4 linked regions of the Homo sapiens genome follow. The protein of the gene in region 3 interacts with the protein of the main gene of each other region in a pairwise test. Each region holds a gene or a part of one and is shown on either strand. Other genes may lie near its edges.

The links. The genes of interacting proteins can lie anywhere in the genome.
Region 1: the proteins of ABHD16A (region 3) and GORAB interact in binary tests that used the Homo sapiens proteins (3 or more experiments, as listed by UniProt).
Region 2: the proteins of ABHD16A (region 3) and PERP interact in binary tests that used the Homo sapiens proteins (3 or more experiments, as listed by UniProt).
Region 4: the proteins of ABHD16A (region 3) and POLE interact in binary tests that used the Homo sapiens proteins (3 or more experiments, as listed by UniProt).

The regions. Positions count from the first base shown.
Region 1 is NC_000001.11:170,545,365-170,549,165, forward strand, and holds part of GORAB (RAB6-interacting golgin), read left to right. Parts: exon of another isoform or gene 1-427; intron 428-3,801.
Region 2 is NC_000006.12:138,097,420-138,101,220, reverse strand, and holds part of PERP (p53 apoptosis effector related to PMP-22), read left to right. Parts: intron 1-3,801.
Region 3 is NC_000006.12:31,686,153-31,690,191, forward strand, and holds the end of ABHD16A (phosphatidylserine lipase ABHD16A), read right to left. Parts: intron 3,976-4,039; coding exon 3,926-3,975; intron 3,815-3,925; exon of another isoform or gene 3,553-3,814; coding exon 3,429-3,552; intron 2,968-3,428; coding exon 2,863-2,967; intron 2,635-2,862; coding exon 2,571-2,634; intron 2,154-2,570; coding exon 2,097-2,153; intron 1,952-2,096; coding exon 1,889-1,951; intron 1,749-1,888; coding exon 1,672-1,748; intron 1,589-1,671; coding exon 1,490-1,588; intron 1,393-1,489; coding exon 1,346-1,392; intron 1,144-1,345; coding exon 1,060-1,143; 3' UTR 803-1,059; downstream 1-802. UniProt on the Homo sapiens protein: Phosphatidylserine (PS) lipase that mediates the hydrolysis of phosphatidylserine to generate lysophosphatidylserine (LPS). LPS constitutes a class of signaling lipids that regulates immunological and neurological processes.
Region 4 is NC_000012.12:132,625,803-132,628,643, forward strand, and holds part of POLE (DNA polymerase epsilon catalytic subunit A), read right to left. Parts: intron 516-2,841; coding exon 315-515; intron 1-314. UniProt on the Homo sapiens protein: Catalytic component of the DNA polymerase epsilon complex. Participates in chromosomal DNA replication.

The sequences.
Region 1 (3,801 bases), on a different chromosome or scaffold from region 3:
AAATATTTTCTCTTTTTTTTTCCTTTCAATTATACTCTGTATGAAATGGTTTAATATATGTTTCCTTGGTTTCAACCATTGGCATTTTTTAAAAGAGAAAAAATACCATGGAGTATTTTTAAAATGAACTAACACATGTAATGAATTACATGGACTTTGCAGACAGATAAAAGGGCAAAAAAATATGTCCAATTTCAGGGTTTTCAGCCCTTTCAACATTGCTTTAATCATCCTGGTTTGTCTTTTTTCACAAGGGAATGCTGTGTTAATGACTCAGTTTTCTATCTTACTCTGTTACACTAGAAATGAATCAGAATGCCTCATTAGGCCAGGGTAAACCACAACATCAGAATGTTTATATAACAATTTATTAAAGCGGAAATGCTTGATTGTGGTTTTTAATAAACTGTTGAGTGTTTAAGAAAGAGTCTTGTGGTTGTCCTTGTGACTTTTGTAATTGTTGTTGGACCATATGCTATTAGACTTAGAGTTGTCTTTATTAATTAACTACTTAAAAGAATGCCATCAGTAGCTGATAACCAGAGGTTCCAGGTTTCCATTAATAAGGTCATTAAGGGAGATAACAGAGATTTTATTTAAGATTAAACTAAGCCTTGATTTGTAGCACATTTTATTCTCTGTAACATAAGTTTGCCAGAGGAACATTTTTATGCCTTTGTAGCCTTTTATATGAATAATTCATATTATAAGGTAGAAGTACTAGGTACCTCAGTTGAAATTTGAGGCCGGGCACGGTGGCTCACGCCTGTAATCTCAGCATTTTGGGAGGCCAAGGCAGGTGGATCACGAGGTCAGGAGTTCAAGACCATCCTGGCTAACACGGTGAAACTTCATCTGTACTAAAAATACAAAAAATTAGCTGGGCGTGGTGGTGGGCGCCTATAGTCCCAGCTACTCAGGAGGCTGAAGCAGGAGAATGGCGTGAACCTGGGAGGCGGATCTTGCAGTGAGCCAAGATTGCGCCACTGCACTCCAGCCTGGGCAACAGAGCGAGACTCCGTCTCAAAAAAAAAAAAGAAAGAAAAGTAATTTGATTTTAATTTTGTCCTAGTGGAAACTGGAGAAAGACGCTTTTTCATATTCAGTATTATATAAGAAATGTCATAGTTTTAGCCTTCTAAGAACCACAACAAAGAAGGTGGGATTACTAAAGGAAAAAACATCCTATAGTCTATAAGTATCCTAAATGAAATTTTAGTAAATTTTTAAATCTTTAGTAAGTTACAGATGACAGTTTCTCATGGTACTAATATTGATGTAGTTGAATGTAAGTAGATGTTGTGTGCCACTATTTTTGTTTTTATTTTTAGGTTTTTGAGACGGAGTATCACTCTTATTGCCCAGGCTGGAGTGCAGTGGTGCGATTTTGGCTCACTGCAACCTCCGCCTCCCAGATTCAAGCGATCCTCCTGCCTCAGCCTCCTGAGTAGCCCAACTATAGGTGCCCACCACCACACCTGGCTAATTTTTTGTATTTTTAATAGAGATGGGGTTTCACCATGTTGGCCAGGCTGGTCTCCAACTCTTGACCTCAGGTGATCCGCCTGCCTCAGCCTCCCAAAGTTCTGGGATTACAGGTGTGAGCCACCACGCCTGGCCATGTGCTGCTATTTTCAAAAGCCGAAGCTCTTGCGTTGAGTCAAAGGGAAACAAAGACTTTGGTGACTAGAACCGTAGTGTGTCTTGTTCATGCGTAAGATTAAGGTATTATTTTCTAAACTTGCATTTGTGGTTATTGAGAAATTACAGATCGGTAAAATAATATTATGGTCCAGATTTGAAGTGAAAGATAATCCCTAGGACAGTCAGTTTTTATGGGAGATTTCCTTGTTTTTTCTTTTTTTAATAAAAATGATATCTTAGTTCTATAGTATTTGGTACAGTGCTATGTCCACAAAAGGTTCTTGGATAGTGAATAGGCCAGAACTTGCTTTAAAATTGGCTTCTGTAGAGCAGTGTTTGGATAGACACCTCTGAGAAGACTAGCACTTTGAGCCAATTTGAGAGAGTTGCTGCTGCTGCTGCTGCTACTGCTGCTACTGCTGCTACTGCTGCTACTGCTGCTACTGCTACTACTGCTACTGTTCACCACTGGGATTACAATGTTGCCATATGCTGTGCAGACCAGTTTATAAAATCCAGAGTGGCTGCATGTAGAACATTTTTTTAAATCACTATTGACCATCTAGGTTTCATAGACACCCTCATACATGCAAACATACACCCACAGACGAATATTTTTAAATCACTTTATGAGTAATTTTTAAAAGTAAGATTAAAAGGGATTGTGTAAAACAACTTTAAAATTTTAATAAGAATGTAAGCATGGTAACCATCTTTGTATCAAGTAATGTTTGACTCACAAACATAAAAAGCTGAGAGAGTATAGTTACATCCTTGTAGCAACACAAGATAGTCTAGATACTTGTAAAATATTGGGTGTATGTTCTCCCTGCTGAAATGATTAACTCTATGATAAAATCATTTTTCCTTTCTATGCTTAGAAATATATTTTTTACTGACTGATTCTTAAGTTTGAGAAAATTCACCTAGGATATGTTTTGCTGAAGACTCATCTGAGATTTCACATATGATCGATTTTATCATCTAGACTCTAGAATGTGTCTCTGCATTTGTATTAGTTTCCTAAGACTACCATAAGAAGTAATCCAAACTGGGTGACTTAAAACAACAGAAATTACTTCTCTTTCATTTCTGGAGGCCACATATCCAAAATCAAGGTGTCAGATTTGTGATTTCTTCAGAGACTCTAGGTATCCATTTCTTGCCTCTTCCAGCTTCTGGTGGCTGTGGGCATCCCTTGGCTTGTGGCCACGCCATGCCATTCTGTGCCTCCATAGTTATGTTGCTTTTTCTTCTCTCTCTAAACTTCCTCTGCCTTTCTCTTAAAAAGATGCATGTGATTACACTTAGGGTCCAGCTGGATAATCTGGAATAAACTCCTCAAAACCTTTATCTTAATCACATCTTTTTCCATATAAGATAATTTTCACTCATTTGTCATAGAAAGTAATATTCACAGGTCCCAGGAATTAGAAAGTGAATATCTTTGGGAGGCCATTTTTTAGCCTACCACACCATTCATCTTTTGATTTCTTTAACAGTGGCAAGATGTCTTCCTCTGTCAGTTGTCTCCACTTTGCAAATACTGGATAGGCAGAAAATGAAAACTAAAAACAGGTTACAAAAATGGTGTTTTCAGTCTTCTTTTATACTTTCTGGAGGTGACATGATACTTTGTACAGCACAGTAAAGAAGCTCAACAATGATAAGTTATTGCATCATCCTTTCAGATCATTTTCTTATTTTAATTTCTTTTTATTACAAAAGGGAATAATTGATAAGTAATGATGAAATAATTCCTAGGATGATGAAATGGCAAAATGTTTCAAGATACAGGAAATATAAAAATACTGCAATAATCCTATAATATATCTTAGATTTATGAAAGGGTTCTTTGGACCTCTCTGGTAATTGCAAAATATAATTTATTTTATTCTGTTTTTTTAAATAAGTAAATTTTCTCATTATTTGAAAGACTTAAGAAAAGATAAAAATTATGAAATGCTAATTTATACAAATAGTGAGAACTGCTCAGAAAAGGAACTGAAAAACTAAAAGTGGACCCGTGGAACCCAGTGGTATACTGAGGGTTAATGGTTGAGTTTTTAAACATTTCAGGGGATACCAAAACAAAGAGACAATTTCTAGAATCCTTTAAAAATAACATTCATTAATTCATTCCATCCCCCTTTAAAA
Region 2 (3,801 bases), about 110 Mb from region 3:
TTTTTGTATTTTTAGTAGAGATGGGGATTTCACCATGTTGGCCAGGCTGGTCTCGAACTCCCGACCTCACGTGACCTTTCTCGGCCTCCTAAAGTGCTGGGCTTACAGGCTTGAGCCACCGCGGCTGGCCTATTTCTAGCTTGACATTTAAAGTATTTATTTATTTTTACTTTTTTGCTCTTATTAGTTGATCTTACTAGCCTTGTAACATTTTGCGTTTTTGTATGTAATTTCTGGAAAAAAATACAGCATGCTTTGTCATACAGAAACCTTAAAAACACGTCCTAGGAAAAACTCAGTTTTGTTGGTGATCGTTAAATGGTTTCCGTGTTCTTGATTTAATGTTGAATCTTTGCGAGGGCTAGGAAACTTTGAGAAGCTGTTGTTCATCTAATGAATATCACTTAAATTGGATTTATAATGCTGCTGGTTTCTTTGATTACATGAGCTTTTCTAAATGGTACTTAGAAAATAAAGTTAGGACACCAAATTGGTCTTCCCTTAAGAAAATAAAACAAACAAACAAAAACTTTCCTACACAGAAACGCAGCATCTATTTACCTGGAGTACTGAATGCTTTTGTGGTCTCAATCCAGAGAATGAGAGTTGACAATAAGAATCCTTTCTACTCTCTCCCATACACTTACACACACACACACACACACACACACACACACAAATCTGGTATATAAAATAGTAATGAAAGACAAACTTGTGTTCGTATTAGATAAAGATGGACAGTCTGCCTTTGAAAAACTGAGGACCATCTATTGAATCATGAAAGATGTAGCTTTAGGACAAGTTCTAAAAATTGATGTTTTCCAGTGGGGTCGGGAAATAGGGTAGAATTTAGACCATGATATAATATAAAAATATAAACAGCTCCTAAAGGGTTTGGTCAATTTGTAGAAAGTAGGCTCATTCTAGGTAACTAAGTGAGACCACAGCTACCTAGGGCATAAAGTTATTAACTTTTCAAAATGTAGGTCATCGAGAATACCCATGTCCTAAGTCTCTACATCTGAAAGGCTCCTTCTCAGACAGAACGGTGGGCTGGGAGGACCCTGCTCAGACCTGGTATGGTCTAAATGGTCACTGACATGAGAAGGCAGATTGCTTTACTTGAAGACGTCTGTTATTCATCAGTCAGGATCTTTAGAACTGTGCCAAGTTTTCTGTCTTAAATGATAGTTAAGTGATTCAATGTGGGTGTTTCTGTGATGCAAGGAGCAGGTTTTACACGTTCTATTTCCAAGGCAGTCTTTCTCAAGACAAAATGTGGTTTAATTTTCCATTTTGATTTTCTTTAGACTCAGCACTTTAAATAAGCAAGACATGAACTGAGTCGTGTTAAGATAGCATGGGAAAAGTTCTTAAAATATTCCTATATTTATGTTCACGTCTTGGCTTTAGGTTAGGTGAATTGGCTTACCATTTCTTTGGTTTAATTCCTTCCAAGCACTTGAAACTAAGCATAAATTATACTTCAGCTATAATGTTAGAGGAAGTATAATAGTAATAATCTTTTTATGTTAATTTTCCTCAAATAGGTAAAATTGTTAATATTACTCTTTACAGAAATATCATACATAATTTATTTGGCTAGATTTTTCAAACCTTTATCTGTGATTGTAAAAGTTTAGTTATTGAAATAGATTCCTTGTTAGGAGGTTTTGCCTGTTTTTATGGAAAACTCACATTCTCCTATGCAATGATTTTTATTATGTTTGCGTTCTTTTACATGCATATATAGATATGTTTCCTTTCATTGCAGTTTCAAACTTCTGAACTCATAAAATTAAAAAAAAGTTTTTGCTTATTTGATTTAACTATTGGACTTAATTGAACTTAACAATTACCAGTGGCCATTTAAAAAAAACTAAAGAAATGAGACTGTAATTGACAATGGGTCACATACTTAAAGTTATATGATCCTTTTTGGTAGTGCTGCATCTGTTTTAATAAGGACTTTAATCATCTAAGTTGTTCTCAAACTTTATGGATATAAGAAACACTAATAACATGCAGATTCTTGGGTGCTACCACTCAAGCTCTGATTCCATAGGTCTGGAGGGAGGCACAGGAATCAGTATCATTTTAAGGAGCACTACTGCTTATTTTGCCTTTGTGGTCTATGGGCTGTACTTTGAGAGGTCTGATTAATTAATGTTCTTTCCAAAGCATGGTCCCTCTTCTCTTAAAAGTTATCTTACTTGAAGAACAAGGCAAAAGTGAGAAAAAGAGACTTACTAAGTTTTAACATTTTGGCTTTATTCCTTTCTATTTTAAAATAAAACATTCCCATTTTAACCTTATCTCTCAAGTCTCTCAGTGGTCTGACAGGAAGAGCTAGAAGATTTGGAGGAAAGTAATAAAAATTGTCCGTATAAAACTAGGCCAAATCAGGTACAGTCTCAGCCCCATCCTGACCTAATTTGTGTGAAAACAGTGTTTCTAGGACAGAAAAATGTTTTATCTCCTTAATAATCTATTGTGCCCCAGTCACTCATGAATCTAGAGGAAGACCTGGAAGGTGCATGGGAGTTGGAGAAGGGCATGTGGAGCCTTAGCTCAGGTTTGTCTCTAACAGATGAAAAGAGAAAAATGCATCAGATGATTGAGAAACAATCTTTAAGGGATGGTGCAGAACCTTGCGAATGTAGAAGAAAATAAAAACATGAGGTACTAGAGAAAAGTCACAGGGACACAGGAGGAACATTTTGAGTAGTGAGGGCTGGGGAGTTAGTCACTGATACTACAGGAGTGTGCTTCCATCATCTTGGAATAGGTGTTTTTAGCCTTGGCTAACAGATGCAAAGACTGGAGTATGGCCAACAGGGGCAGAGGCAGGGTCCAAACGAGGTCCAGCAGCTCCAACACCCTTGCTCTTTCTGCCAGCCCCATCTTTGTTTCACCTTGACCAGTCAAACAACCTAGAATTAAGTGAGGACAAATACTGTCAGCTGTGCTGCGTCACAGAGTAAGAGTAACGCCAAGATGGAGGACAGGTGACTCATGACTCTCCTTTTCAAATGTAGTGAAGACTAATAGGTTAAGTGTGCACGATCTTCCAAGAGCAAATGAACGGATAGACTAAAGTCTATCCATACCATAGAATATTAATCAGCCACAAAAAGAATGAAGTATTGATTGATGCTATAACATGACAAACCGCATCATACCATACTCAGTGAAAGAAGCCAGTCACAAAAGGCCACATAGTGTATGATATTCCATTTATATGAAAAGTCCAAAATCGGCAAAGGTATAGAGACAGAAAGTAGATTTGTGGTTGCCAGAAGCTGGAGGAAGAGGGGATGGAGGGTGACTGCTAATGGGCACGGGGTTTCTTTGCGGGGCGATAAAAATATTCTGGATTGTTAGTGGAGATGGTTGTACAACACTGTGAATATAGTAAAAACCACTGAATTATACACTTTAAAAGGGCGAACTTTATAGTGTGTAAATTATATCTTTAAAAAAGTCATGTTTTGGATTCAAACAGGCTGAAATCAAACTCTGTCTAAACCATTTACCAGCTGTGTGGCTATGGGCAGGTTATTTGAACTCTAAGTATATCCTTCATTTCTAAAATAGAAACAATAGCAGTGTGTACCTTAAGAAGTTATTAGGAGATTTACACTACTCAGGTAATGGGTGCACTAAAGTCTTCACCATCATACAATTCAGCCATGTAACCAAAAACCACTTGTACCCCAAAAACTACTGAAATTAAAAAATATATATAAAAATAAAAAATAACCTGGGAAAAAAAAGTTGTTGTGAGGATTCAGTGAGCTC
Region 3 (4,039 bases):
AACATAGTAAGACTCCATCTCCAAAAAAATAAAAAAAACTGCCAGGCAACAAACCAATGGGTGGAAGAGGGATTTATTCACTGTGTTCCACAAGGTCCAAAGTTAGAGATAGATGGCAGTTATAGGGAACCAATTTCCTCAGGTACAACCTAAGCATCTTCTCCTAACAGAGCCGTCCAAAAGGCAAAGTATGGCTCTGAGAAGACATGAGTCCTTGGCACCTGGCCCTCCGTCCCTGGCAGGGCCTGTGTTTGTTGAACTGCAAAAAGGCTGTGAGGACAGAGACTTGATGACATGGCAAGGTGGGTGTGCAGGGTTTGCTGCATAAGACGTGGGGAGCAGGCCCTTCCTCACTCTTCACCAAGATAACAAGAGGTGAGCAATGAAAATTGGGGGTACTGCTAGTAACACCATGCAGGTTGAACCTGGAAACCAGCAGAAGCACTGGGTAGGTGAAATCGGATCCTAGAAAGCTCATGAGCCGTAAGCAGGAGGGGGCAACCATGGGCTCCTGGGGTGGTTGTATGCAGGAAGAACTGAAGAAGGAGGCGGGAGGGGCCAGGGAGGCTGCACAGTTGTGATAACAGTAGGCACATCAGGGACCGGGGAGGTTTGGGGACCTGCTGCCTGAGGAAAGCTCAGGTTAGGGGCTGAAGGCCTAGGGGGACACAGAGATGGGAAGGGTTAGATTAGCTAGATTGTCTAGAGTTAGGGTTTCCCAAAGCCCAGCTCTTTGGGGCCTCTGCTCTCCCCACTACCTGCCCCTGGCTCCCTGGACACTTGAGAAGTTATACAATTAGCCTGATAGTAGAAAAAATACCTTTTTATTAATTATTAGGAATAATCCATTCATGTAATGCAGGATGTATGTTGGAGAAGGTTAAGTACAGCCACATGAATGAGGGGAAACGTGCAAGAGGAACAGTGGTGAGAAGGGGGATGGTCCCCCACTTTCCACAAACTATAAACAGCAACATGAACACAGAGAATCACAAATAAGAGGGTCTTTCCTCATGTCTCCTCTCACCCCATTCTTCCATAATGAGTCCCAGTTGGTCCCTAGAGGTGCCAGGGCATCTGGAAGTTCTGGGCTGGGAGTGGGGTGCAGTGAGTGGCCTCAAAGTTGTGCAGATGCTTCCGAGCCTGAGGAAAGGAGGTGGGACAGGTGGGGTACAGAGCACTGTTGGGAGGGGCAGCCACTGGACTCCCTCCCCACCCTCCACTTCCGCATCCACCACCCACTCTACAAAAGCTGCCACTTCCAATGCTTATAGGGTATCCCCAGTCCCCCTATGTGAGCCCTGGCCATTCAAGAACCCTTCCCACTTCCCACTCCTTAGCTCACCAGAAACAAAGCCAGCTGCCGCCGTCCATCTGCACTCATGTCCTCCCCTGCAGAGAGGAGGCGCTCAAAATAGGCCACACATCTGGGTATTCATCCCCTTCCTAGGCCCTTCCCACCCTCTCTCCTGCCCCAGGAGCTCCTTACCCACGCTCCAGGGGAAGTCGGGCCCGTGTTCTGCCTGGTAGGAGCGGAGGACAGACAGACACCAGTCCTCTTCCACCTCCCATCGGCTATAAATTGAGGCTGGTCAGGGAGAGAGATGACAGCCAGTCAGCAACCTGACCTTGCTGGGCCCCCGCCCCAAGCCTCACTGGATCCCTTCTCACCTTCCTCCAGCTGTGAGGAGGCCTCCAACCACTGCCTCACCACTCGAAGACCCTCCTCTGCCATCACCCGGGGATACCTACGGAGGAAGTGCCAGGACAGGTCAGGGCTGATTTTTTTTCATTCACCATCCCTGAACCTTCCTCCCTCCTTCCCTGTGCTGGTATCAGTATCTGTGTGTGTACACTGCCCCCAGCGCGCACACACCCTGGCTCTCACCGATGCTGCAGGAGCTTCAGCAGGAGGTCATTGCCTCGGTTGGACATGATGTCCTCAGGAACCCTGGGGGTGAGAAGAATGTACCCTGGAGGGGCTGGAGGTTAGGAGGAAGGGTCTAGATACCCAGGTTTCTGGTGGGCAGAGGTAGAAGGGACAAGTTCCTGGCCATCTCTGGGGTTCCTGAGGGCCGAGATTCCCACGCACTCACGTGGTGGTGATGATCTCATCCTTGGTTCTCCGGATCAGCAGTACAGGACCCTGGTATCTTCAGAGAACAGAGCAGTGGGAAGGGAGAGCTCAGAGGGAGACGGGTGACAACTGGCCCACCCCTATCCCTGCACTGGTAGCATTCTTACCCTCCCCTTGCTATAGCACAGCCCTTGACCTAGCCCTTCACTCAGGGGTGAGAGGGGATTATTTAAGGGGCATGGTTCAGTCTGGCCCTGCTGGGAGACCCCTGCCGTGCCAGGCCTTAACCCTTTGGTTGCCAGATCCTGAGGTGGTCCAGAGTCCCAGGGGACCTGGGAGGGGTTAGGCCAGTTGAGGTGGTGGCAGGGTCACTCAGGATGTGAGCCAGTGGCCTTTTACCAACTTGCACTTTAGTACTAGTTTCAGGGTTTGAGCGCCCAGCAGAGCTGTATGGGGGGCAGGTGTTCAATGCCGGACGCTGGCCGGCCCTCACCTGCACAGCTGCTCCGCGTTGTTTAGATTGAGATGCTGCCTCACGGTCCTGGTCACCAGGCCCCCTAGAGTGGGATAAAGGTGAAGGGATGGCAGAGACAAAGCCCTTGCCCAACATAAAGGTCCTCACTATTCACGGAGAAAGAAAACTGAGGCCCCCAGACAAAGGAGTCCTCCTGCTTCCAACAATGGGGCGACTTACTCCCCACCCAAGAAAAGGGAGCCATCTCAGAACAGTTCCCAGTTCCAGCCCACCCCTTCCCAGGAAGGGCAGGCCTGGGAGCTGCACTCACTCCAGCTGTCTGGCATGACCTTCAAGGCCAAGGGCACCAGGTCATCAAAGGAGGCATCCAGGATCATGGCACTAACATCTGGGTAGGACATGGCTGCCCACGTGGCTGGTACCAGGGCAGGGAAGAAGAGTAAGAACTGAGAAAGGCTCCTTTCTCCCCACCACCCATGCTCTCATCCCACTGACCCTATAGGCCAACCCCATTCCCCCTATGTTATCCCTTGTTTTTTTCTTAACCTACTTCACTTGGTTAGGGAACTATCTGGAGAGGATGGGGATAGAACACTGGAGATAGTGCACTGAAGATAATGGGCAGGAAACATTCACTTTCCCTGATCTCCCCACCCAGGACCTGGGTCTGCTTTTCCTTTTAATGACTGGGCACAAGAGGGGAAGGAAAGGTGAAGTGTATGCAAATAGGATAGCTTCTTCCAGGCCCACTCAGAGATTCTACTTCCTCTCTCTTCTTCCTTGAGCCTCCACCCCACCCCATTTCCCCACCTCTCCCGGGTGGGGCTGGGTGGTCATGAATGTGTCTACAGTGGGGGATGGGAGGGAGGCTGGTACCAGTGAAGCCGCCGATGGACCAGGCGTAGATGATGATGTCCTGGGGCTGGAAGCCTAGGCGGTGGATGGCAAACTGGACCACCACATCCATGGCATTAGCCTCATTCTGCGGGAATGGCACCCCCTGCAGGAGAAAGGGCAAAGTCAGGAGTGTGTCAGCACCAAAGGCCAGCTCACCTGTCCCTCCCAACGTGGACCCCTCCTGCAGCCACCTATGACAGGCAGAGAAGGTGTAGAAGGAAGGGATGGTAGGAGAGGTTGTTCTCTCCAGAAGACGGATGTGTACAATGAGATCTACCTCCTCCTCTCCTGCTAGCCCCGCACTGTGGGGATGGGGGCATGGCTCCCAATGCTGCCTTCACAACCTCCTAGACCCCAGCCCTCAGGTGAGTGGGACGCCTTCAAGAAATCCACAGCCCCTCTCCTCCCTCCAATGGCTGACCAGAGGGAAACAGACATAATTCAGGAAAAGGAAGGGATTCCTGAGATGGTCTCACCGTGCTTCCAGCAAAGCCTGGATGATTCCAGCCCAGGACTGAATATCCAGCTGTAACACAGGGGGAGGAGGGACTGAGACCTTGTGGCCCACAGCCCTTTCTCCATCCCTGGGG
Region 4 (2,841 bases), on a different chromosome or scaffold from region 3:
CCCAGCCTCCAGACCACAGTGCCATGGGCAGGATCTCAGGAGAGGAAGGGGCTGTGAGAAGCGCCTGGTGACGGGCGAGTCTCCTGAGTGCAGCTGCACGCACTCTGGCCTCCCACCTGCACTTGAGCCCTTCCTAGGACAACATTCCGAACATGGTGTGGGGAGGCCTGGGAAGGGGCCTGTTGCCAATCCATGTGAGTCAGAGGGGCAGCAGGTGTGACCCACAGAGCTGGAGCTGCAGAAGCCCTCAAGACACCGCAGTGCCCTCGGATGTTCTGCTCCACAGTGAAGGGCCCGCTGGAGCTCAGCCGCACCTCTGAGAAGGAAGAGTCTTTACACAGGTCCAGGTCGCGGCAGAAGTTACAGCTGCGGCAGATGACCTCAGGAAGCACGTAGGAGCGGCAGGGGTCTCGGAACTGGGCCTCCTCGGAGAACTCGCCGACATCCACCAGGCGAAGCAGGTCTCGGTTCAGCTTATTCACCTGGTTTGTGATGTTGGTGTCCAGGGACAGCACCTGCAGAGACCACAGCCCACATCGGGAAGGAGCTCCCGGGGCCTCCCTGCTGCTCTGTCTGGACCAGAACCCTCTGGACCTTAGGCTACAGTTTCCTGGTGTCCTTTCCTCCCTTCCTTAGTCCCTTTAGACGCCTCAGCTGACTTCTCTACATTAGCAGTTTTCCATCGGTGAGGACAGGCTTCCCTGGGGAATTTACTAAACATTTAAGGAAGAAATGCTGCTGATTCTACACAGTATCTTTCAAAACACTGAAGAGAGAGAGCACTCAACCCATTCTATGAGGCCAGCATCCCCTGATACTAGAACCAAAGACCGTACTAAGAAACTACAGACCAATAACAGCCTGAGCACAGACACAAAAATGCGCAACGAGATATTAGCAAATTGAATGCAAGATCGAAAAAAAGAATACATAATCCAGAAAGAGACTCACATAGATAAGGTTACTAAGTTATGGAAAAAGGTACAAAGATGATTCGATAGAAAAAGAATAGTCTTTTCAACAAATGGTTCTTGAATACAAGCGTATCTTGGAGATATGGCAAGTTCGGTTTCAAACCACCTCAATGGACTAACATCACAATAAAGCAAATCACACAAATTATTTGGTTTCTCAGTGCATATAAAAGTTACATGATTTTTGGCTCACGCTTGTTTTCTCAGTACATATAAAAGTTACGTGATTTGTGGTGGCTCACGCCTGTAATCCCAGCACTTTGGTAGGCCAAGGCAGGTGGATGGCCTGAGGTCAGGAGTTCAAGACCATCCTGGCCAACACAGTGAAACCCCATTTCTATTAAAAATACAAAAATTGGCTGGGCATGGTGGCGGGTGCACCTGTGATCCCAGCTACCTGGGAGGCTGAAGCAGGGAATCGCTTGAACCCAGGAGGTGGAGGTTGCAGTTAGCCAAGATTGCACCACTGCACTCCAGCCTGAGTGACAGAGTGAGACTCCATCTCAAAAAAAAAAAAAGCTATGTGATTTTTTTTATTTTGGGACAGGATTTCACTCTGTCACCCAGAATGGACTGCAGTGGCACAATCATGGCTCACTGCAGCATTGACCTCTTGGGGCTCAATTGATCCTTCTACCTCAGCCTTCCCAGTAGCTGGGACGACAGGCATGCGCCACCATGCCCAGGTAATGTTTGTAATCGTTGTAAAGATGGGTTTTGCCATGTTGCCCAGGCTGGTCTTGAACTGCTGGGCTCAAACAGTCAACCCACCCTGACCTCCCAAAGTGCTGGGATTACAGGTGTGAGTCACTCTACCCAGACAAAACTTAGGTTTACCCTATACTGTAGTCTATTAAGTGCATAACAGCATTATGTCTAAAAAACAATGTATGTACCTTAATTTTAAAATGTTTTATTGCTCAGAAATATTAACGATCATCTGAGCCTTCAGTGAGTCGCAATCGTTTTGCTGGTGGAGGGTCTTGCCTCAATGTAAACGGCTGCTGACTGATCAGGGTGGTATTGCTGAGAGTTGGGGTGGCTGTGGCAATTTCTTAAAACAAGACAACAATGAAGTTTGCTGCATCAACTGACTCTTCCTTCCATGAAAGACTCTGTAGCATGTGATGCTGTTTGATAACATTTCACCCACAGTAGAACTTCTTTCAAAATTGGAGTCGGTCCTCTCAAATTCTGCTGCTGCTTTGGCAACTAAGTTTATGGAATATTCTCAATCCTTTGTCATTTCCACAATGTTCACTTTCATCTCAAGAAACTACTTTTTGGCCAGGTGCGGTGGCTCACGCCTGTAATCCCAGCACTTTGGGAGGCCGAGGTGGGCAGATCACAAGGTCAGGAGATCGAGACCATCCTGGCTAACATGGTGAAACCCTGTCTCTACTAAAAATACGAAAATTAGCCAGGTGTGGTGGCGCTTGCCTGTAGTCCCAGCTACTCGGGAGGCTGAGGCAGGAGAATGGCGTGAACCTGGGAGGGAGCTTGCAGTGAGCCAAGATCGCGCCACTGCACTCCAGCCTGGGCGAGAGTGCGAGACTCCATCTTAAAAAAAAAACTACTTTTTTGGGCTGGGCGTGGTGGCTTGTGCCTGTAATCCCAGCACTTTGGGAGGCCAAGGCGGGTGGATCACCTGAGGTCAGGAGTTTGAGACCAGCCTGACCAATATGGTGAAACTCTGTCTCTATTAAAAATACAAAAATTAGCTGAGCATTGTGGCGGGCACCTGTAATCCCAGCTACTTGGGAGGCTGATGTAGGAAAATCACTTGAACCCAGGAGGCGGAGGTTGCAGCGAGCCAAGACCGCACCACTGTATTCCAGCCTGGGCGACAGAGCAAGGAGGCTCCATC